3 linked regions of the Homo sapiens genome follow. The protein of the gene in region 2 interacts with the protein of the main gene of each other region in a biochemical or structural test. Each region holds a gene or a part of one and is shown on either strand. Other genes may lie near its edges.

The links. Proteins that work in one complex are often made in the same cells at the same time.
Region 1: the proteins of RAB11FIP3 (region 2) and ASAP1 form a complex in vitro, tested with the Homo sapiens proteins (one study listed by BioGRID).
Region 3: the proteins of RAB11FIP3 (region 2) and RAB3IP form a complex in vitro, tested with the Homo sapiens proteins (one study listed by IntAct).

The regions. Positions count from the first base shown.
Region 1 is NC_000008.11:130,111,662-130,118,684, forward strand, and holds part of ASAP1 (arf-GAP with SH3 domain, ANK repeat and PH domain-containing protein 1), read right to left. Parts: intron 7,015-7,023; coding exon 6,828-7,014; intron 6,586-6,827; coding exon 6,500-6,585; intron 5,335-6,499; coding exon 5,219-5,334; intron 5,085-5,218; coding exon 5,017-5,084; intron 4,354-5,016; coding exon of another isoform or gene 4,171-4,353; exon of another isoform or gene 4,153-4,170; intron 4,075-4,152; coding exon 3,967-4,074; intron 662-3,966; coding exon 433-661; intron 1-432. UniProt on the Homo sapiens protein: Possesses phosphatidylinositol 4,5-bisphosphate-dependent GTPase-activating protein activity for ARF1 (ADP ribosylation factor 1) and ARF5 and a lesser activity towards ARF6.
Region 2 is NC_000016.10:420,756-428,657, reverse strand, and holds the start of RAB11FIP3 (rab11 family-interacting protein 3), read right to left. Parts: upstream 3,010-7,902; 5' UTR 2,652-3,009; coding exon 1,938-2,651; intron 1-1,937. UniProt on the Homo sapiens protein: Downstream effector molecule for Rab11 GTPase which is involved in endocytic trafficking, cytokinesis and intracellular ciliogenesis by participating in membrane delivery. Recruited by Rab11 to endosomes where it links Rab11 to dynein motor complex.
Region 3 is NC_000012.12:69,790,850-69,797,872, reverse strand, and holds part of RAB3IP (rab-3A-interacting protein isoform alpha 1), read right to left. Parts: intron 3,437-7,023; coding exon 3,359-3,436; intron 2,733-3,358; coding exon 2,529-2,732; intron 1,397-2,528; coding exon of another isoform or gene 1,271-1,396; exon of another isoform or gene 1,230-1,270; intron 1-1,229. UniProt on the Homo sapiens protein: Guanine nucleotide exchange factor (GEF) which may activate RAB8A and RAB8B. Promotes the exchange of GDP to GTP, converting inactive GDP-bound Rab proteins into their active GTP-bound form.

The sequences.
Region 1 (7,023 bases), on a different chromosome or scaffold from region 2:
AGAGAAAAGTAACTTTCCAGAGAACTGAAACTCCACTCCACATTATAAAAAGTACAGGTTCTGGAGCCACGTGGACCTCAGATTGAATCTCAACTTTACCTCTTACCAGTGGTGTGACCTTGGGCTGGTCAGTGTATCTCATTGAGCCTTAGTTTCCTCTTCTGTAAAATGGGCACAAAAGCACATACTTCACAGGATTGTTGTAAGGTTAACACAAATAATGCACAAAGAGAGCCCACAGCACTGCCTGTCCTGCTCTTGGTACCTGGCAAATGGCATGGTCCCTATTTCAAGCTGCTCCTGACAACACGATCCGCGCCACTCAAATGTACCTTGCAATTCTTACCTCAAAGCTGGCTAGACTATCAGCTCTGAGGATGGAGTCACAAGCCCTTCGAGGATGGAGTCACAAGCCCTTCTCAAAGCCCATACCTTTCCCGGCGTTCCTAGGAGGCAGAGGGGGAGCCTCCGTGGTTGGTGATGTGGGCGAGTCTGTGCTTGTGGAAACGAAGATCTGGTTGGTGAAGGCTCCATAGGAGAGCCGCTGTTTGTCCCTTGGAGTGCTGAATCCTGGCAGTGCCAGCTTGTCCTGGGGGGAGATGCTGGAGGAGTGGCAGAAGCTCTGAGGTCTGGGTGAGCGCTCTTTCTTGATAGGGCTTGGCTGGCAGATGAAATAAGAAGGTGAGATAATAATCAAGGACCACCCTTCATGTGTACAGAGGGCCTCCGCAGGGCGGGCTCAGGTGGGAATCTGGGTTCCTGTGGCTCTCTGAGCTTTATGAGGTCAGCCACAATGAGCCTCATGATGCTGACACAGTACAAGGGAAGGATCTAGATACCACACTTTCATATCGTTCACCACTATGAATAATCACACTAGTGAAACACTGGTTAGGATCAGCAGCAGTGTCAGAAGCACAGTAAGGTCACAGGTAGATTTAACTTTTAATAAGCAAACACCTTCAGAATGCAGGACTTTTTCAGCAACATTTGAATAGTATTTCCACCTATTTCTAATTTGCTACATTAAGTTTTGTTCCCTGCTCAACCCTTTAACGTTGAAGTTCTTTCTTTGCCTCTTTTCTCATTTTATATCCCCCTGCAAAGTAAACGGATTCACACCCACTGCCCGCTACACAATAATTACTTACAGATCTGTAAATACAACCCCAGTGACTTGTGTTCCAAACCAATGGCCCATGAGGTATCTCTGGTATTTGCGCTTGTGGTGATGGCATTAGGATCCACTCAACTGCCCAGGTTAGAAACCTCAGTGTCACCTGGAGTCCCTGGTTCCTGCATTCCCCTTGGAAATATCCCTTGAAGCCCCTCCTAGTACAGGTGCTCACCAGCTCCCACTGCAGCTCTAGCCTCCAGAATGGCCCCTTCTCCAGTTTCCTTCCTCCAGTCCATTCTCCACACTGCAGCCAGAGCTGGTGGGAAACCTTGCTCTTTAGACAATAAACCTCTGTGGGCTTCTGACTGCTTGCACAAAAACCCAAAGGCCAAACCTTGCCCACAAAGCCATCCTGATCTGGTTTGCCTGACTCTACAAGGCAGCTGCCTGCCTCTCCCCACCCAGCCAGGTGAATGCATCTCACACACAGTGCTTCTCTCCATTCCTCCGACATCCAGACTCTACCATGACTCCTTCCCTTGGCACGTGGTGTTCTGGAATGATGCATTCCACCCCACTTCTTTCCCTGGCAAGCTTCCACCTATCCTTAGAAACCCATCTCCAATGTCCTTGAGAAGGCAGACTGAGGCAGCTGCTTGGTCCTCTGAATAGCTCTCAGGAATTTTTCCATACTCTTATAATGATTATCACATTGTATTATAATTTATTTCCTCTTAAAGTTGTTAAGGCTTGAGGACCTCTTTGGCCATTCCTTACATCCTGCCTGTGATACAGGAAATGTCCAATACATAGGCAATCAATTAATGCATGAATGAACTTTCAGAGGTAGTTAACTGCTTATAAGGAAAACTCAGTGAGAACTGGGTTTAATCCTCCAAACTGTCTTTACTAGCTGGGAGACTTTAGACAAGTTGCTAAATTCTCTTTGTAAGTTTTCTCTTCTGTAAAATGGGGATAACAATGTCCCTTATGTACTTTTTTTTTTTTTTCCTCTGAGACAGGGTCTCACTCAGACACCCACACCCAGGCTGGAGTGCAATGGGACAATCTTGGCTCATCACAGCCTTGAGTTCCTGGGCTCAGGTGATTCTCCCACCTCTGCCTCCCGGGCAGCTGGGACCACAGGCGCACACCACCACGGCCAGCTAATTTTTGTATTTTTTGTAGAGAGAGGGTTTCGCCATGTTGCCCAGGCTGGTCTCAAGCTTCTGGGCTCAAGGCATCCACCCGTCTCACCCTCCCAAAGTGCTGGGATTACAGGTGTGAGCCACAGCACTCAGTTATGGACTTTCAATAAAGATGATCTGAGATAACGTAAGTGCTTAAATCTGTCTAATCCATATTTAATGAACATCATTCCTTAATGACAGGCATACATTCTGAGAAATGTGTTAGGTGATTTCGTTCTTGTGCGAACATCATAGAGTATACTTACACAAACCTAGATGGGAGAGCCTACTACACACCTAGGCTATATGGTATAGCCTATTGCTCCCAGGCTACAAACCTGTACAGCATGCTACTATACTAAACATTGTAAACAACTGTAACACAATGGTAATTACTTGTGTATCTAAACATAGAAGAGGTAAAATAAAAACATGTTATATAAGATTAAAAAATGGTACATCTATGTAGGACACTTTCCATAAATGGAGCTGGAAGGACTGGAAGCTGCTCTGGGTGTGAGTGAAGGCCTAGGACATTACTGTACATTTTTATACAACTCAGTGCAGTAGGTTGGTTTATACCAGCATCCCACAACCATTTGAGGAATGTGTTGCACTACCGTATTATGACATCTATGGCATCACTAGGTGATGGCTATTTTTCAGCTCCGTTTTAATCTTATATTGATCCCCATTGAGTATGCAGTGTGTTGTGGACTGAAATGTTATTATACAGTGCATGATTATGTTCAATAAATAACAACTGTTATTTACTTACTAATTACTTGTTTTGAAGGTTAATTTTTTTTTTTTTTTTTTTTAAGATATAGGGTCTTGCTCTGTCATTCAGGTCAAGAGTGCAGTAGTACAATCATAGCTCACTGCAGCCTCAAACTCCTGGGCTCAAGCAATCCTCCTGCCTCAGCTTGTCAAATAGCACCACCACGTTTTATTGATTGATCCATTTACTTTGTAGAGACAGGGTCTCACCATTTTGCTTAGGTTGCTCTCGAATTCCTGGTCTCAAGCGATAGTTCTGCCTTGGCCTCCCAAAGCGCTGGGATTATAGGCATGAGCCACCATGCCTAGCTTCATGGTTAATTTTATGTGTCAACAGGCTACAGTGTCCTGGTGTTTGGTCAAATACTAGTCTAGATGTTGCTGTAAAGGAATTTTTTAGATGCAATTACCATTTAAATGAGTAGATTTCGAGTCAAGGGAACTACCCTTCATGATGTGGGTGTGCCTCACCTAATCAGCCAAAGAAAGGCCTTAAAAAGACTGAGGTCCCCCAAAGGGTAAGGAATGCTGCCTCCAGACTGTCTTTAGCCTGAAGACTGCAACATTAACTCCTGCTGGGATTTCCAGCCTGCTGGCCTGCCCTGTGCATTTTGAACTTGACAGCTCCTTCAATCATGTGAGCCAATTCCTTAAAAAAAATTTCTCTGTCTCTCTCCCTATCCTGTTGGCTCTGTTTCTCTGGACAACCTTAATATAGCTGTTAAATGGTGCCCAATAAGGACTGAACAACATAAATGGCCCTGATACATTGGATCATAAAACCACAATCAATCAATCTCACCAAAAATGGATCTTGTCTACACAGACTAGAAAAGTTGGGGTAGTTGTTGAGAATTCGAGGACATAATTTACACTCACTTTGTCATCCAGATCATCATCGCTCTCATCTATCTCCTCCTGTCGAAGATTCCACTCATATTCTACGTGGACGTGTGGATTGAACTTTCCAGATTTAGCCTGGGAAAGCTGGAAGGAACAGCAAATGTGCACCATTTTAATTTAAATGCTGAAACATCCCAATATTATACAAACACTGAGCAAATCCCACCTTATTCCTAGTTTTCAATGAATCATCTGTAGGTGTACTATAGGCAACACTCTGCTTAGACAAGCTGCACTGCTATGTGACAGGCTCAAGAAGAAATGCAAACAATTGCAGGCAGAGCCTTCTTTATTTTGATGACTTGTCTCCAAAATTAAAAGCTTTCTTCTTATTAAATGGGCCTCAAACTTGCAAATTCCTGGCTGAAAGGCAAAACGAGTCTTTGAAGTTTAAGACGTAGGCTTTTAAGGTCCCAGTCCAATCTGTGGCCCCATTTTCTCATTCATAAAATGGGAGCAGGGATAATTGTCTCAAAGGATTCTTTTAAGAATAAAAAGGCCCAACTGGTGGGCCTGGAACCTGGCACTTAGCAGAAACTCAAGAGAATCACACTAATGTGAAGGCCCTGACTTGCTAAGCAAGAACTAGTAGGGTCAAAAAAGGTGAATGTGCACAGGAAGGGGAGGGGCTGGGAGAACAGTGTGTTAACATTTTGAAGACCACTACTCTCTGAGCTTTACTTGCCCAATTTTTGGAGCAGCTTCTCAAATAATTCTTTACTATTAAGCTGCAGAGAAAGTCTAATGGTCTGGGAAATAAAAAGCATGACCTCAATGCACAAGTCGATCTGGTAATAATACTTGTGTAATGCCTTTCACCTCCTTTAACTGCATTCCAAAAACATGTGGATGACAAATTTATCATTTTACCACTTTTTCTAATGTAGCACATTGCTCATCTGATTTTCTTTAGCAAGTGTTAAAAAAAAATGAATCTGCATTTTTAATATTCAATTCTAGCTTCTCAGAATGACACTTTTAAGGCAGCCAATGTCTAATAAATCTCCCACGTCCATTTTTGCTTACCAGATCTTCACACTGGGTAGCTTTTAGTCTCTTTGCTATGTCTAGGGCAGTTTCTCCAGCCTGGTTAACTGAAATAGGAAAAAAATTAATTTGCATAATTATCTAGGAAACACCTTAAGAAGGCAAGGAACAATAATCAAATTACAATGTACCATGCAACACACGCTTACTACAGTCATGAAGACACTAGACACACTCTTACCTATATCCACAGTGGGCTTGCTCCTGAGCAAAAGCTTCAAACACTCAGGTTTACTGTACATACTACAGTAGTGTAGAACTGTGTTTCCCAGGGCCGTCTGCTTATCCAGGTTCCCACTGAAAAATTAGATGATGATTAGAAAAAAATGACTTACTTTATAACTTAAAACTATAGATTAGCCACTTATTTTTGTGCTGACAACTGAGTCAAATTTGAGACCTAATTATTATAATAGAGAAAATTATGATGTTTCTAACCTAGATTTATAAGCAATACAGTGATAACAGGCAGTATTTATTTAGAGTGCCAGGTCCTATGGGACAGACACTGTTTCTTAACATTTACATGTATTAGTTCATTGAATCTTTACAACTATATGATGGGGTAAATACTAATAATAACCGCTTTTACAGATAAAAAACCCTGAAGCGCAGAGAGGCTGAAGTGCTTGCTTTCAAGATTTTCAAGATAGGGATGGTGAAGCAGGGATATTTGAACACAGGTAATCTATCTCTGGAGCCAATGTTTTGAGCCACTATGCTATATTGTCTCTGAGGAAGAAACCTGGACTTTTATACAATTTGGCTTGTGTCTATGTACCATTTTTCCTCTATGGGTTCAAATCCCCTCACTATTTTGATCTTCTTCTTTAGATGAGCTCTAGTTCCTCCTCATCATCTGTTGCTTACAGAACAGATAAAGAGAATAAAGAATCCAGCAAGTCCAAACTTCCTATATTCACTCTTATACTTCCATCAGTATATCCCAAACTTGAATGAGCTATTGATCCAGCCACACACACTGCTGCTGTCTTATATTAAATTTAGGAACAATGAAAACTCACAAATATGGTTGACCTGTGCTGTTAAGTCTTCTCTCTTTTAACCTCTCCTAACGGTTAGCAAATGTGTCCAATCTGTGCAGCAGATTTTTGGATACAGACATAATTTTACATTTATAAAGGCCAAGAGATGGCAAACTACAGCCTGTAGGCCATATCTGGTTCACTGTCTGTTTTTATAAACAAAATAATAAAGTTTCATTGGAATACAGCCACACTTGCTTGTTTACACATTGTCAGTGGCTGCTTTCACACTACCATGGCAGAAGTGAATAGCTCTGACAGAGAGACTTCATGCCTGCAAAGCCAAAAATAATTTTTATATCTAGCATGACACAGAAAAAGCTTGCCAATTCCCGATCTAGGCCACTGATAGGACTGGTTTGTGTTAATTTATAAGGCATATTCAGGTAATTCAACAGAGAAAACAAAAACGATACCAGTTTTGTACAAGGAAGTCAACCAAATGGAGAGATGTCTGATCTGCAGTTCGGACGGCAAGGTGAAGGGCTGTCTCCCCAAGCTCCTAAAAAGGGAAAGAAAAGTATAAGTAAGTCAATAATATGCTCTGCCAAGGGAGGCTTCATATATATCAGTTGCCCCCAAGTAATTATAAGGAGCACACCTCTTCACTCTCATATTCTCTTGATTTAGACATGGCCACCCAATGTATAAGAATCTCATTATATGGTATAATGTTAAAATAAGTCACCTTTTAAACTGATTTTCCACATTACTTTTTATCCAATGATTTTAGTGAGGCCTTACCTGCCCAGGTTCCAGCAGTGGTTCCATTAGCTCTACCCCTTCTGCATAGACTTGAATTAGTGCAAGTAAATCCCTGGATTTGATGGCCTCAAGCAATTCATTTAGTTTAGCTGATGAAGTTGAACAGGTCTTCCTTGAAAACCTATGATCTACATACTTTGCAGTGATATATTCTTTTCGTACAGTCCTAAAACAG
Region 2 (7,902 bases):
TACTCCTGTGAGACCTTGGGAGAGCTATCTGACCTTTCTGGGTTTCCAGTTTCTTACCTGTAAAGTGGGGATGAATCCTGCTTACCTACTATCTCAGAGAACTGTGGTATGATCCAGTGGAAACATCCTGAGCCTCACAGAAGTTCTCTATCAAGAGTTGGGTTATGGTAACAAGGAGCAAATGTGGTACTCTCCTAACTTCTTTGCTGTACTGAAGCAAGAGTATGTTTGGGAGAAGAGACAGCGCAGTAGCCAACAGCAACCAAGGGAGCTCAAGGTGCTCTCCAGCCCAGGGGCAAGAAGGAAACGCAGCAAAACACCTGGACCAGCAACCACCATCCACGCTGACCATACAGGAAAGTATCAGTCACATATTTCACTGCCCATTAGTGTAGGTGGAAAACTACCCTGACAATATCCCAACCGGAGCTAAGCTTGCGAGCATTGCAGGCTGCCCCGCACGCACCTGTCTGCACATCTTCTTAATGTGAACTCAGCAAGGAACCCTGATTTATCAGGACCCTGTGTTTTTTGTTTTGTTGCTGTTTTTTTTTTTTGAGACGAAGTCTCGCTCTGTCGCCCAGGCTGGAGTGCAGTGGCGCGATCTCCGCTCACTGCAAGCTCCGCCTCCCGGGTTCACGCCATTCTCCTGCCTCAGCCTCCCGAGTAGCTAGGAGTACAGGTGCCCGCCACCACGCCCGACTAATTTTTTTGTATTTTTTAGTGGAGACGGGGTTTCACCATATTAGCCAGGATGGTCTCAATCTCCTGACCTCGTGATCCGCCCGCCTCGGCCTCCTAAAGTGCTGGGATTACAGGCATGAGCCACCGCGCCCGACCATCAAGGTTCTTAATGTTATGACTGACACCCTAAATAGCAGTGTGCCAATTTTACCTCTTTTCTTACAGACCTCTTGGCTTAAACATGCATATGTACTTGAACACCCACTTACCAGATGTCTGCATGTGTGAGAAGTCAAAATACAAAAAATTGACAGATGCACCTTAGGGATTTCCTGCTAAGTAAAATATTTAAAAGTGAGCACTGGTATTATTTGATGTCCACCGGGTTATTGGCAGAACACACACGGCCCTGCTGTTATCTCCACTTAAACTTTATTAAGTGCTGAGGTAGACAGGAACAACTGCATCTTGGGGCCCACCTTTCCCCCAGGAGCAGGTGCCCTGAGGACCGCGTGGACCCCTTCCACACTGTACTGTGCGTAGTGCCTGTCCACGCATTTCACCTCTCCTACGAGAGTGGACGTGGCCCTAACGGAGTTCTGCTAGACTTCTGCATTTGCCAACAAGCTCCGAGGCTCATTGCCTTCCTCCCCAAAGGCACCAAAGTAAAAATTCTTAATTCCAGGACTCTCTACAAGCATTGACTGTCTCCCAAATAAAAGATGAAATCTAAGTAGAAAAGATGTCAACCACACACAGTAAAGTAATTGTACTCAAAATAGGTGTCTATCAGTAGGATCTCAAGGCGTCTGGGCAGCCTGGCCTCTGCGGCTAGAACTTGGGTGAATTCAGCCGAGCAGTATCTGGGCCCTCGGGTGGGGGAATCGCGGGGAACTTCTTCATTCAGGGGCACGTCGATCAGGCACCCTGGGGGGGTGGCGATCAGGCCCCCTGGGGGGGTGTCCCCAGGCGAGGAGCTGACCTCGGTAAGATCCAGCTGACGAGGCGCTGGGGGGAGGGGAAGAAACTGACTCCCCAGAATAGAACCTCCTTTTAAGAAGGGAAGAGGGACTCCAGCGCAATTCAACCAGAAATCCAGGGCCGAAGTGGTGAATAAGCAGAAAAAGCAGGACCGTCAGGTCTTGACAGTGCCTTTCCCGACTCCAGGGGCAGCGTCGACCGGTCCCACATCAACCCCGCCGGCCAGCGCGCACCTGCCCAGTTCCCACGCCCCGGCCCGGGCCGCTCCGTACCTGCTCTGCCCCGTAGACCGTAGCAAACTGGATGAAGTCCTCGATGCGGACGAAACCGTCCCCATCCCCGTCCAGGGCATCGAACACGGCTCGGAGGCGGGGGCCGTCCTCCTGACTCCCCACGGGCTCGCTCGGAAGGGGGTGGGTCTGGCTGAGGTCCGAGGGCTGCGGCGGGGACCCGGGACCTTGCTCCAGCGCCAGCTCGCCCGCCGTGGGCGCGGGGAAGGGAGAGAAGACGTCGACCTCGCCCCGCGCTCGGTGGCTGCTGCTGGACCCCTGCAAGCGGAAAGGCGCGCTCTCCGGGCAGCTCGCGGGGCCACACTCCTCGGGCTCCTCAGTCCAGGAGAACAACGGGTCGAGTTCTGGAAGCGGCGCTTCGGAGCGCGGCCCTGGGCCCGGGGCGTCGGGGCTCGCAAGCTGCCCCCGCGGGCCGGAGCGCGGCGGCGGGGCGGACGGCCCGGGGTCTCGCGGGCCTCCCTCCAGCCCCGGGGCCGGCCCGGCGCTCCAACGCGCCCCGCCATCTGCAGCGGCCCCGGGCGCAGGCTCATCCAGGCCCGGGGACTGCGGGTCGGGGCCGCCGACGGGCGCTCCGAGGCGTAGCTCCGCAGGGCCCGGAGCCAGTTGTGCCGCCCCCGGCCCGTCCGGCCCGCCCGGCTCCGGGTCGGGCCCCGGCGGCTCCGAGCCCGGGGGCGAGGCCGGCGGGGCCGACGCCATGCTCCCGAGAGGCTAGTGGTGCGGAAGGGCGCGGGCGGCAGACAAAGGCGCTCAGGGCGCGGCGGCGGGCGCGGGCATCCCCTCGGCGGCGCGGGCGGGCGCGCGCGGGGCGCCCGGGCTGCTGGGGCTGGCGCTCGGGCCCTGCTCTGTCCTCGCCCATCTTCGCACCGCGCCTCAGCTGCCCTCGGCCCGGCGGCGCGGCGGGCGCAGGCCCATGGCGGCGGGGCGGCCTAGGGAGGGCGGCGAGGATCCGGGCGGCGGATGGCGGGGGACGGGGGCCGAGGAGGCCGGGGGACGGGGGCCGAGGAGGCCGGAGGCCGCGGAGCCTGTGAAGCAGGATGAGGAGACTAAGGAGGCTGAGGCGCCTGAGGTACCCGGAGAACTAACGCCGCCGCCGCCCAGGCCCCGCCCCCCGTCGGGCCTGACGTCAGCACGTCCCGGCGGGGTCCCAGCCCCTCGCCGGCTTGCTGTAGAGGCAGGCGCCGGGTGTGTCGCGGCAGTGCAGCGGCCGCGAAGGGGTGTTTTGCTGTATGTCATATTCCTCGTTTCGCCAGAGCGGGGGTCCCGAGCTTCGGGCGCGGGACGCGGGGGTGCTCCGAGGCTGCGAGTGGAGGCGTGACGTGACGTCCCTGGCAAGAGGCGCGCGGAGTCAGGCCTTACTTAGAACGTGTTCCCGCCGCACAGCTACCAGCGGGCGCGACCGCTACCCACGCATGGTGCGGTCGAGTAAACGGCACCGCCTGGCGAGCGAGAGACGCAAAGGGACATAGCCCCCTAGGAGCTGAGCTCTTCGGGGGTAAAGCGTTCTCACGTTGATGAGACCAGGAGGCGGCGCACGCCTGGCTCCGCGGCCCAGGGGTTGCAGGTGCCCCAGGGTTCGCGGGGCGCAGACGCCGCAGAGGGCGACGCCCTGCCCGGGTCCCGCGCGGACCCGGGGGACGCAGGGTCTGACACGGAGTGCGGAGGGGCCCCAGACACGCAGTCCATGTCCCTTGAAACCAGAGGCACGCGCGGCCACGCGCTAGGCCTTTCCCTTAAGCCTGTGACCAAGATCTCCGGGACTCCCAGCGTTGGGACGGGCGCGCTGGCCCACGCCCAAGCGGGAGGATCGCTTGCGCCCAGGAGATTGAGACCAGCCTGAGCACCAAAGCGAGACCTCGTCTCTACAAAAAATAAGACTCAAGAAGACACCCAGGGTGAATCGCCCGTCTGCAGCCAGCCTCCCGAGCACCGTGGCCGCGTCTGACAACTGACCTCTGTGTCTGGGTGTCCCTGTCCTCAGAGGGACACGGGACCTCAGAAAGGACCACAGCCCGGCGGCAGGCATGATGGTGGGAAAGCTAGTTAGGACAGGTGAGGCACTAAATTTAGCCTGTCATAATTTGTATCAGGGAAATGATGAACTTGTATTTTTACACACCATGGGCACCAACACAAGATATGGTTTCGTAAGCAGCTTTGGCAAGAACCAAAGGAACGGAACCTCTGCTTCCAAGTGTACGGTCAGGAGCAGCGTGTTAATTAAGTGAGTCATCTTCCGTGGCAGAATCCCAGGGTACATGGGACCAGACTTCGCGAGGCTGGCATTAGGAAAAGGAATGTGAGGGATCCTCCTCCCCAAACCGTATTCTCATTTTCTTGTAAGAGCTGTACGTGTTCATGAGGAAGATACTGCATTCAAAGAACGAAATCACCAGCAGCTTTGGCAAGAATTCAAATTTGGGCTGATGCCTTCGGCCGGATAAAATTTTCAGAAGCAGTGATAGTGATGTGTCAACCTTTCTAAATAGGGGTGTTAGTGTGGGCGAGGCAGAGACAGCAGGCTCCCTCTGCTTTTATGTGCCGGCGCTGCCAGAGGCAGAAGGCTGGCTTTCTGAGAGCAGGGGCCCGCACGCTCTGTCTGTGCTAGGGCTGGAAAACGTCCATTGCGTGCCCGGCTGGTGTCCTCCATGGAACCACAGCCTGGAAGCCTGCACCTCCCTGCCTGGACCAGTTAGAGGCTGTTCATGAAAGACTAAAGGGACAAGTTCCCGTCTATCCGTCTGCTGTTCAGAGCTACTATCTGTGTCCCCTTTGTAGGCTGTGGGCTGTAGCAGTTCCTTCTTTTCTTTTCTTTTCTTTTTTTTCCCCGAGACAGGGTTTTGCTCTGTTGCCCAGGCTGCAGTGCAGTGGTGCGACCATAGCTCACGGCAGCCTCAACCTCCTAGGCTCAAGAGATCCTCCCACCTTAGGCCAGGTGTGGTAGCTCATGCCTGTAATCCCAGGACTGTGGGAGGCTGAGGCGGGCGGATCACGAGGTCAGAAAATGGAGACCATCCTGGCTAACACGGTGAAACCCCGTCTCTACTAAAAATACAAAAAAACAAAAATTAGCCAGGTGTGGTGGCAGGCACCTGTAGTCCCAGCTATTTGGGAGGCTGAGGCAGGAGAAAGGCGTGAACCCGGGAGGCAGAGCTTGCAGCGAGCCAAGATTGCACCATTGCACTCCAGCCTGGATGATAGAGCAAGACTCCGTCTCCAAAATAAAAAATAAAAATAGAAGAGAGATCCTCCCACCTCAGCCTCTCCAGTAGCTGAGACCACAGATCTGCAGCACCTTATTATCTTTTTTTTTTTTTTGATATGGAGTCTCACTCTGTCGCCCAGGCTGGAGTGCAATGGCGCGATCTCTGGTCACTGCAACCTCCGCCTCCCGGGTTCAAGTGATTCCCCTACCTCAGCCTCCTGAGTAGCTGGGATTACAGGCGTATGCCACCAAGGCCGGCTAATTTTTTGTATTTTTAGTAGAGACCGGGGTTTCACCATGTTGGTCAAGCTGGTCTCAAACTCCTGACCTCAAGTGATCCGCCCACCTCGGCCTCCCAAAGTGCTGGGATTATTGGCATGAGTCACCACACTTGGCCTCAACATGCGTTTTGGAGGGTATAAACATTCAAAGCATAGCCTCCATCTTCTCACTCTGTCCTCACATGTTGGAGAAAGATTGTCTCTTTTGGGCTGGGCGTGGGAGCTCATGCCTGTAATTCCAGCACTTTGGGAGGCCGAGGCGGGTGGATCACGAGGTCAGGAGTTCAAGACCAGCCTGGCCAAGATGGTGAAACCCCGTATCTACTAAAAAATAGAAAATTTAGGCCGGGCGCGGTTGCTCAGCCTATAATCCCAGCACTTTGGGAGGCAAGGTGGGCGGATCACAAGGTCAAGAGATCGAAAACATCCTGGCAAACATGGTGAAACCCTGTCTCTACTAAAAATACAAAAATTAGCCGGGTGTGGTGGCACCCACCTGTAGTCCCAGCTACTCGGGAGCCTGAGGGAGGAGAATCGCTTGAACCTGGGAGGCAGAGGTTGCAGTGAGCGAAGATCGCACCACTGCACTCCAGCCTGGCGACAGAGCGAGACTCCACCTAAAAAATATATGTATATATTAGCCGGCCGTGGTGGCGGGCACCTGTAATCCCAGCTACTCAGGAGGCTGAGGCAAAGAATTGCTTGAACCCGGGAGGTGGAGGTTGCAGTGAGTCAAGATCACACCACTGTACTGCAGCCTGGGTGATGGAGTGAGACTCTGTCTCAAAAAAAAAGAAAAAAAATTATCCGGGGGCGGTGGCGGGTGCGTGTAATCCCAGCTACTCAGGAGGCTGAACAGGGTAATCACTTGAGCCTGGGAGGCAGAGGTTGCAATGAGCTGAGATCCAGCCACTACACTCCAGCCTGGGCAACAGAGCGAGACTATCTCAAAAAAAAAAAAAAGGCGGGCGTAATGGCTCACGCCTGTAATCCCAACACTTTAGGAGGCCAAGGCGGGTGGATAACCTGAGGTCAGGAGTTCGAGACTAGCCTGGCCAACATGGTAAAACCCTGTCTCTACTAAAAATACAAAAACTAGCTGAGCGTGGTGGCGTGTCCTGTAATCCCAGCTACCTGGGAGGCTGAGGCAGGAGAATACTTGAACCCGGGAGGTGGAGGTTGCAGTGAGCCAAGATCCCACCATTGCACTCCAGCCTGGGCAACAAGAGGGAAACTCCATCTCAAGGAAAACAATAAAATAAAAATAAGGCTGGGCACGGTGCCTCACGCCTGTAATCCCAGCACTCTGGGAGACCGATGCGGGTGGATTACCTGAGGTCAGGAGTTCAAGACCAGGCTTGCCATGGTGAAACCCCATCTCTACTAAAAATACAAAAAATTAGCCAGGCATGGTGGTGCATGCCTGTAATCCCAGCTACTTGGGAGGCTGAGGCAGGAGAATCACTAGAACCTGGGAGGCGGAGGTTGCAGTGAATCGAGATTGTGCCATGGCACTCCAGCCTGGGCAGCAAGAGTGAAACTCCGTCTCAAAAAAAGAAAAAAGAAAAAAAAAGACTGTCTCTTCTAATAAGGGCACTGTTCCCATCGTGAGGGCCCCACCTTGCTGACCGTATCTAACCCTAATTATTATTATTATTATTTTTTTTTGAGACGGAGTCTTGCTCTGTCGTCCAGGCTGAAGTGCAATGGCGCCATCTCAGCTCACTGCAATCTCTGCCTCCCGGATTCATGCCATTCTCCTGCCTCAGCCTCCCCAGTAGCTGGGACCACAGGCACCCGCCACCATGCCTGGCTAATTGTTTTGTATTTTTACTAGAGCCGGGGTTTCACCGTGTTAACCAGGATGGTCTCGATCTCCTGAGCTCATGATCCACCCGCCTCGGCATCCCAAAGTGCTGGGATTACAGGCGTGAGCCACCGCGCCCGGCCCTAACCCTAAGTTATACCTCCCAAAGACCTCATCTCCAAATACCATCCCGTTGGCGTTAGGACTCCAATATATAAATTTTGGGGTAGCAACTGGGAAGAGAGAGTTAGAATGGATTTAATGGACAAAATATTCATTTCTAGAATACACAAAAGAATTTCTCAAAAAACAGTAAACGAACAGCAACCCGATAGAAAAACGAGGAAAGAATATGAATAAGCAGCTCCAGAAGAGGAAATTCAGGTGGCCGGTAAACACATGAAAAAGATGCTCATCTTCACTGGTCACCAGGAAAATGTGTGAGTGTAGCCCTTGACACCAATCAGAGTAAGTCTGGGGACACCAGGGAGTGGGGATTTGGCACCAGTCGTGCAGCTGAAGGTCGGAATACTCCAGTGTGGGATCCGCCTTCCAGTACCTGCCGGAGAAACTGCACATGTCCGCAGGGAGATGGAAAGACCTTGTTTCCTTCGGGGATTTGTACTTCTCTGGAAGAAGAGCCGAACGGCTTCAGTG
Region 3 (7,023 bases), on a different chromosome or scaffold from region 2:
GTAGCCATAAAAAATGATGAGTTCATGTCCTTTGTAGGGACATGGATGAAACTGGAAATCATCATTCTCAGTAAACTATCGCAAGAACAAAAAACCAAACACCATATATTCTCACTCATAGGTGGGAATTGAACAAGGAGAACACATGGACACAGGAAGGGGAACATCACACTCTGGGGACTGTTGTGGGGTGGGGGGATGGGGTAGGGATAGCATTGGGAGATATACCTAATGCTAGATGACGAGTTAGTGGGTGCAGGGCACCAGCATGGCACATGTATACATCTGTAACTAACCTGCACATTGTGCACATGTACCCTAAAACTTAAAGTATAACAATAATTAAAAAAAAAAGAAAGATGCAAATTTATTAAAAAAAAAAAAAAAAAAAAAAAGAAAGAAAAGAAAAAGGACATAAACCCCAAAGCAGGTAAGTGGTATTCTAAGGAAAGATTCTAGTTTAAAGGCTGTAATTTAAACCATTTATTAAGAGCTGACTCTGCCAGGAACCACCGTAAGCACTTTACAAGCATTTAATCCTCACAACTGTGCAAGACAGATATTATGATTGCCATTTGTAATTTGCCGGAGATTGCATAGCAAGAAAGCAGTAAAGTCCGAATTCAAATCTAAGTGGCTTGATCCCAAAGCCTTGCACTGGGCATGTATGTCTGCATGCATGCATGTGTATTTTAAATGTTTACAGAAGACATGTTGCTAATGTCATAACTGAGTGCCCCATCATATTTTCTACAAAAACACGGACATGCTTAATTTTCTTCCAGATTGTTACATATTTTTCTAAGACTTACACAGGTCAAATTTATGTAATTCCTTTGCCTAGTAAGACTTTTTGACAAGTTTTTCATGAAACATCAGACTATAACACGTACCTGAAGAGCAAAGGTTATTATTTTGAAGTTATATGCTGCCTATGCACATTTTAAGGGATTTCAAAAACTAAAAATGAATCTTTACCATGTTCCATGAGAAGACACTTATAATTTTGTTAGTGTAAATAGGGGGGAAAGTACATAATTACTTACACATACTGAGTAAGAAACACCAAAAATACAAGTTGTACCAGGCAATTAAAATTGCTATTTAAATTCCAAAGAATTAGAATTAAAGTTAGGACAAAGAAGTTTCTTAAATATTTAACAGAAACCAATGTGAATTTTGGATTTGGTTACATTCAGATTTAACCAAGTATTGAACTTCTCTCTTACCAGCATCATTTTTATTGATAATTCGTCAAAATGCAATTCAATTAAAACAGGTTAACATTGGTTATTCCATTTAATAAACTCCTGGCTTCCATACAAAAATTTAACAAGCACACACATTTCTTCAAGATTAATGATGGACTTGAATTTAACAATGTAAAAGATGGCTTCTAAGAAGAAATGGGAAAGCTTCATAAATTATTGATCAATCCTCTTAGAAATGCATTCTCACAGTATACAATGATTAAAAATTTTTACTCTAAACAGCTCAAAATATTTATATATTATTTCAGTTATCTTTGTAACATATCTTTTAAAATAAGACTATTATTATTATTATGATTTTGAGACAGAGTTTCGCTCTTGTTGCCCAGGCTGGAGTGTGATGGCGCAATCTCAGCTGACCGCAACCTCCGCCTCCCAGGTTCAAGGGATTCTCCTGCCTCAGCCTCCTGAGTAGCTGGGATTATAAGCATGAGATACCATGCCCAGCTAATTTTATATTTTTAGTACAGATAGGGTTTCTCCATGTTGGTCAGGCTGGTCTCGAACTCCCAACCTCAGGTGATCCTCCGGCCTTGGCCTCCCAAAGTGCTGAGATTACAGGCATGAGCCACCATGCCCGGCCCATTATTTCGTTTTTAAATTTTTAATTGTTATGGATACATGATAATGGTGGCCTTACATAGTTGTAAGTGTCTGAATAACAGACTGGCTGAACTGTGAAACCTAATTTGGGATCAAAAATGACACTAATTGTTCTACTATAACTTGAAATTTCACTTAGCAAAATGTCTTCCAGCCTTATGTCATTGTAAGGCTACCATTATTTCTATTTTTTTGTTGCTTAATTATCTAAATTAACTCTAGGACTCCCTTGCTGACATAAAATTCTCTCTGAATTTAAATAAAAGCAATGTATTGATCTTTAAGAAAATCATCTTATTTTCACATATTTCTTATATCCATACTTTGTAAGCGCACTCTAGCAATAAATTTTGACTAGCCAGATCATTAAAGCCACCCACTCTCCTCTAGACAACACATGACAGTTTCCTCCCTTAATGAAATACTGAGATTAAGAAACTTACCAAGTTTCCAGCAGGTACTCCAAGGTCAGCCAGGTAGAAAATGGAACTGAAGAATCCCTGAAAGCAGCCAGCTCTAGATAAAGCCTCCCCCATCTTAATACTGCATTATTTTGTACTAAAAATTTTGCTGGCAAAAATGATAACTGACACCTCAGTGATGAGAACTAACAAGTATCAACAGAGTCAGAGGGGACAGTCCTTGATGAGTTACCTCTTTGCAGTCTTTTACAATTGGCTGTATCACACTGAGGTCCTGATGACTGCCACTCATAGCACTGCTTGTGCTTTTATTTCTTGTATGCCCCTTTTTAAAAGGTGTCTTTCCACCTGGCAAAGGCTCCTGCGTAGGTGATGTTGGAGAACTGGACAATACAAGTGTCTTCAATGCAGCTACTTCAGCTTGAAGTACATCAATCTTGGAAAGAAATCAACATAGTCACATACATTAAATACGTTTCATGACATATGCAGCTAAATATTAGCAATCTGGTCAAAACACTTTCAAAGATGAAAAGTAAGTTTAATTTGTATTTCCTGTGGAGTAATAAAAAGAAACTAAAATCAAGTTTTTTGATGTTTCCATATGGTTTGGATTCATCTATTATTAACAACGTCAAATGAGCCTGTGAAAATTACCAAAATATCTAACATTTATGTGAATTTTCAAAATCCTCAAAATATAATAGCTTATGATTAGTTGTAGAAGTTCACTCCTAAAACAGTAAAATCTAATAACATTTAGGTGGCTTTTCTCAGTGAATTTAAAAACTAAGTATTAACATTAAAATGTGATTCTATAATCCTTTGGATAATTCATGTGATTTACAAGGTTTTAAATCATTTGGTTCTCATATAAATGGACACGAAATGTTTACTATTAATTATACCTACATAGTAGCTATTTTCTTCTATTTTTCTGTAGTTTCCAAATTGAAAACAAGCACTACTTTACGATCAGAACAAAATCCAACAGATGTTAAGGTATCTTTAAAACAGTTATCACAAATTTATTTTATACTATTAAGAGCTGCAAAAACTCACTTTTCCTTGTGCTTCTTTTAGCTGTTTTTCTGCTGTTGCCTGCTTGATATTTGCTTCTCTCACCATTTTATGAGCTTCCTGAAAAAGTTAACATCTCAAATTTTAGAAACAAAGTAGCATTTGTTTTCAAAAAGTTCTTGCCAAATGTTTACAATTGAAGCAAAGATATACTACCAAAAGTTAGCCTGAAGTTAAGTATTCAATGTCAACTATGGAAGCAGCAGTTGACAACAGAGACAAACTATGAGACATTAGGAATAGGTGCCTTCTTTTAGGACCTATTACCACTGAGGCAGCCAAGTTGAGATCAATCATCCGGATAGATACTTGCGTAAGGACTGTGAATGTGACGAAGGCAAACAATGACCAATGTGTCAAAGCCAACTCCTTTGCAGTCAGCTTTTTATAATGTGGTCACTATATATGTTCTTATTAGTCAAAGCAAAGACATACAGGAGGGACAAGTAAAAACATTAACACACCAATAATGTTGCAGTTTATAGTAATGACAGCTAAGAAGCCTTAGAGCTTTCAATAAAAACATTCCCAAAATTTTATTATGTGACAATTTTGTGAAGAGCAACCTAAAAAGGCAAATCAGTTTACCCTTTAATAGAGTTTTAATCTTCTAGTACCACAAATATGAAACTCTAGGTATTTAATTCCTTTTTATTCATATAATGTTTATTCATGAGACATTTACTCATGTCATCTCCTTGTGAGGTACTGCTCCAGATGCTGATTACGTACTGGGAAAGGACAAAGTCCCTGCTCTTAAGGAGCTTACATTCTGTTTATATGTATTAACCAAATAAAACATCGGAATAAGAATTGTGGGTTTTATTCTAAATGCAATATGAAGCCTTACAGTTTTTTTAAGGAAGACATGATCATTTTATTTTTAAAAGATTATGCCCTTGTATAGAATAATCCCTGTAAGGGATTAAGAATGGACTGGAAGCATATATAGGGTGCTTGAGATAGTGCCCCGAGATTTAAGAACTTACATTTTAGAACTTTAGTTTACAATTTATCAGAGGAAGGAAGGAAATGAGCTTCAAAGATATTTAATGAATAGTTTGACAATGGCACCCTCACTAGATCTGTCAAAATGCACAGTGGTAGAATGGAAAGGTGGAAGTTCTTTACATCAGAGTTTGACTGTTTGTTTCCCGTTTGTTCATTAGCTTTTACAGTATTGTAACACTGCAGTTTGTGTGTGCCCATGAATGTGAATTTGCAGCTTATACTAGTTTAAATAGGAGAATCTTTACTATCAATGATTTATAGCAAAATGATATTAACCATGAAGATATTCCATGCACTATTATTCTGGCTATCTTGGCAAAGTCCTTAAGAGCTGTCAAATTTAATGAGTTAAATATTCTCCTTTTAAAAATAACAAATGTTTCAGATTTGCTGAATTTTTCTGGGACAAGTGGCTGTCAACACAAAACTATCTGGCAATGTTTTAAAAATAATAAACACAGCTAATCTGACCCTTCAAGATAAGTAACATTTTAACTTTAAATGAAAAAGTAATTCATACTATGGAGAGAATAGTTGACTAAATTTTTGGAAATGGACTCTGTTTTCATTAATAGTGGATTATGCAATTTGTACCAAACCTCCAACGGAGAACGATTAGAAAAGCTAGAAAAGTTTTTTGTTTGTTTTTAAAATATGTTTGAAGGTATCTGAGAACAAAATAGTGAAGTAAACTTAGAGTAATGTGAAATTTTAGGTGACTTTTCCACTACAGACATAAGGGTTACAGTGAAAAGGTATAACATACATATAATTGGAGCCCCAAAAGGAAAGATGAGCACTAGACTGGGGCAGGATCAGTTGCTAAAAAGATGACATGCAGAATTTTTACAGAATTTTTTAAAAATTGACAAAAAACATCAAAAGGTAGACTCAAAAAAAGTTTGAAAATTTTCCATCACACTGCCCTTCCAAAGCTGAAAATGATGTAAGTATCACCTATACCAGGAGTCGGTAAACTTTTTCTGTAAAGAGTCAAACACTATGTATACATATACAGCCTCAGCTGCAACTCCTCAGCTCTGCTGTTGCAATATGAAAGCAGCCATAGACAATACACAAATTAGTGTGGCTGTTTTAATAAATATTTATGAACACTGAAATATACATATCATTTTGTTTTTCTTTTAGCATATCCAGCACCTCTCAGTTACCTTTTTTTTGGAGGGGAGGTGGTGCGCAAACAAGATCTACCTTCTTAGCAAATTTGTAACATACGATATAGTCGTGCTGTACATTGGGTCTTCAGAATTTATCTATCCTGCATAACTGACACTTTGTACCAATGACCGACATCTCCCGTTTCTCCCACTTTCCAGCCCCTGACAACCACCAATCTACTCTGTGCTTCTATGAGCTCGACTATTTTAGATTCCACATATAAGTGAGATAATGTAGCATTTGTCTTTCTGTCTTGCTTATTTCACTTAGCAAAATGTCCTCCAGGTTCGCTCATGTTGTTGCAAAAGGCAGGATTTCCATTTTAAGACTGAGTAGTATTCATATACACACACATACCCCCCACATTTTCTTTATCCATTCATCAATAGACATATAACTTGTTTCCATAACTTTGCTACTGTGAATAATGCTGCAATGAACATGGAAGCACAGATAACTCATCAGGATAGCAATTTTCTTTTGGATATATATCTGGAAGTGGGATTGCTGGATCATGCGGTAGCTTTATTTTTAATTTTTTGAGCAGAAACTTCCATACTGTTTTCCATAATGGCTGTACCAATTTACATTCCCACCAATAGTGGACAAGTTCCTTTTCTCCACATCCTTGCCAACATTTACTATCTTTTGTATTTTGATAATAGCCATTCTAACCAGTGTGGGGTGCTATCTCATTGGGGAGTGACTGGCATTTACCTGATGATTACTGATGCTGGGTATCTTATCATATACCGGTTGGCCATTTGTATGTCTTCTTAGGAGAAATGTCTATTTAGGCCCCTAGCCCATCTTTCAATTGGGTTGTTTTTTGCTACTGCATGCCTTATATACTTTGGATATTAACTCCTTATCAGATACACGGTTTGCAAATGTTTTCCCATTCAGTATGCCGCTTCTTCATTTTGTTGACTGTTTTTTGCTGGGCAGAAGCTTTTTAGTTTGATGTACTCCCACTTGTCCATTTTGTTTTTGTTGCCTGTGCTTTTGGTGTCACATCCAAAAAAATCACTGCCCAGACCAATGTCAAGAAGCTTTTTCCTTGTTTCTTCTGAGTTTACAGTTTCAGGTCTTATGTGTAAGTCTTTAATCCATTTGAATTGATTTTTCTTTATGGTGTGAGATCAGGGTCTAATTTCGTTCATTTGCATGTGGATATCCAATTTTCTCAGCAGCATTTATTGATAAGACTATCTACTCCCCACTAGGTGTCCTTAGCATTTTTGTTGAGGGTCAGCTAACCAAAAATGTGTCATTTCTGGGCTCTCTATTCTCTTCTATTGGTCCACATGTCTGTTTTTATATCAGTGCCATACTGTTTTTACTGCTGTAACTTTGTCATGTACTTTGAAATCAGGAAGTGTGATGCATCCAGCTTTATTTTTCTTGCTCAAGATTACTTTGGGGCTGGGCATAGTGGCTCACGCCTGTAATCCCAG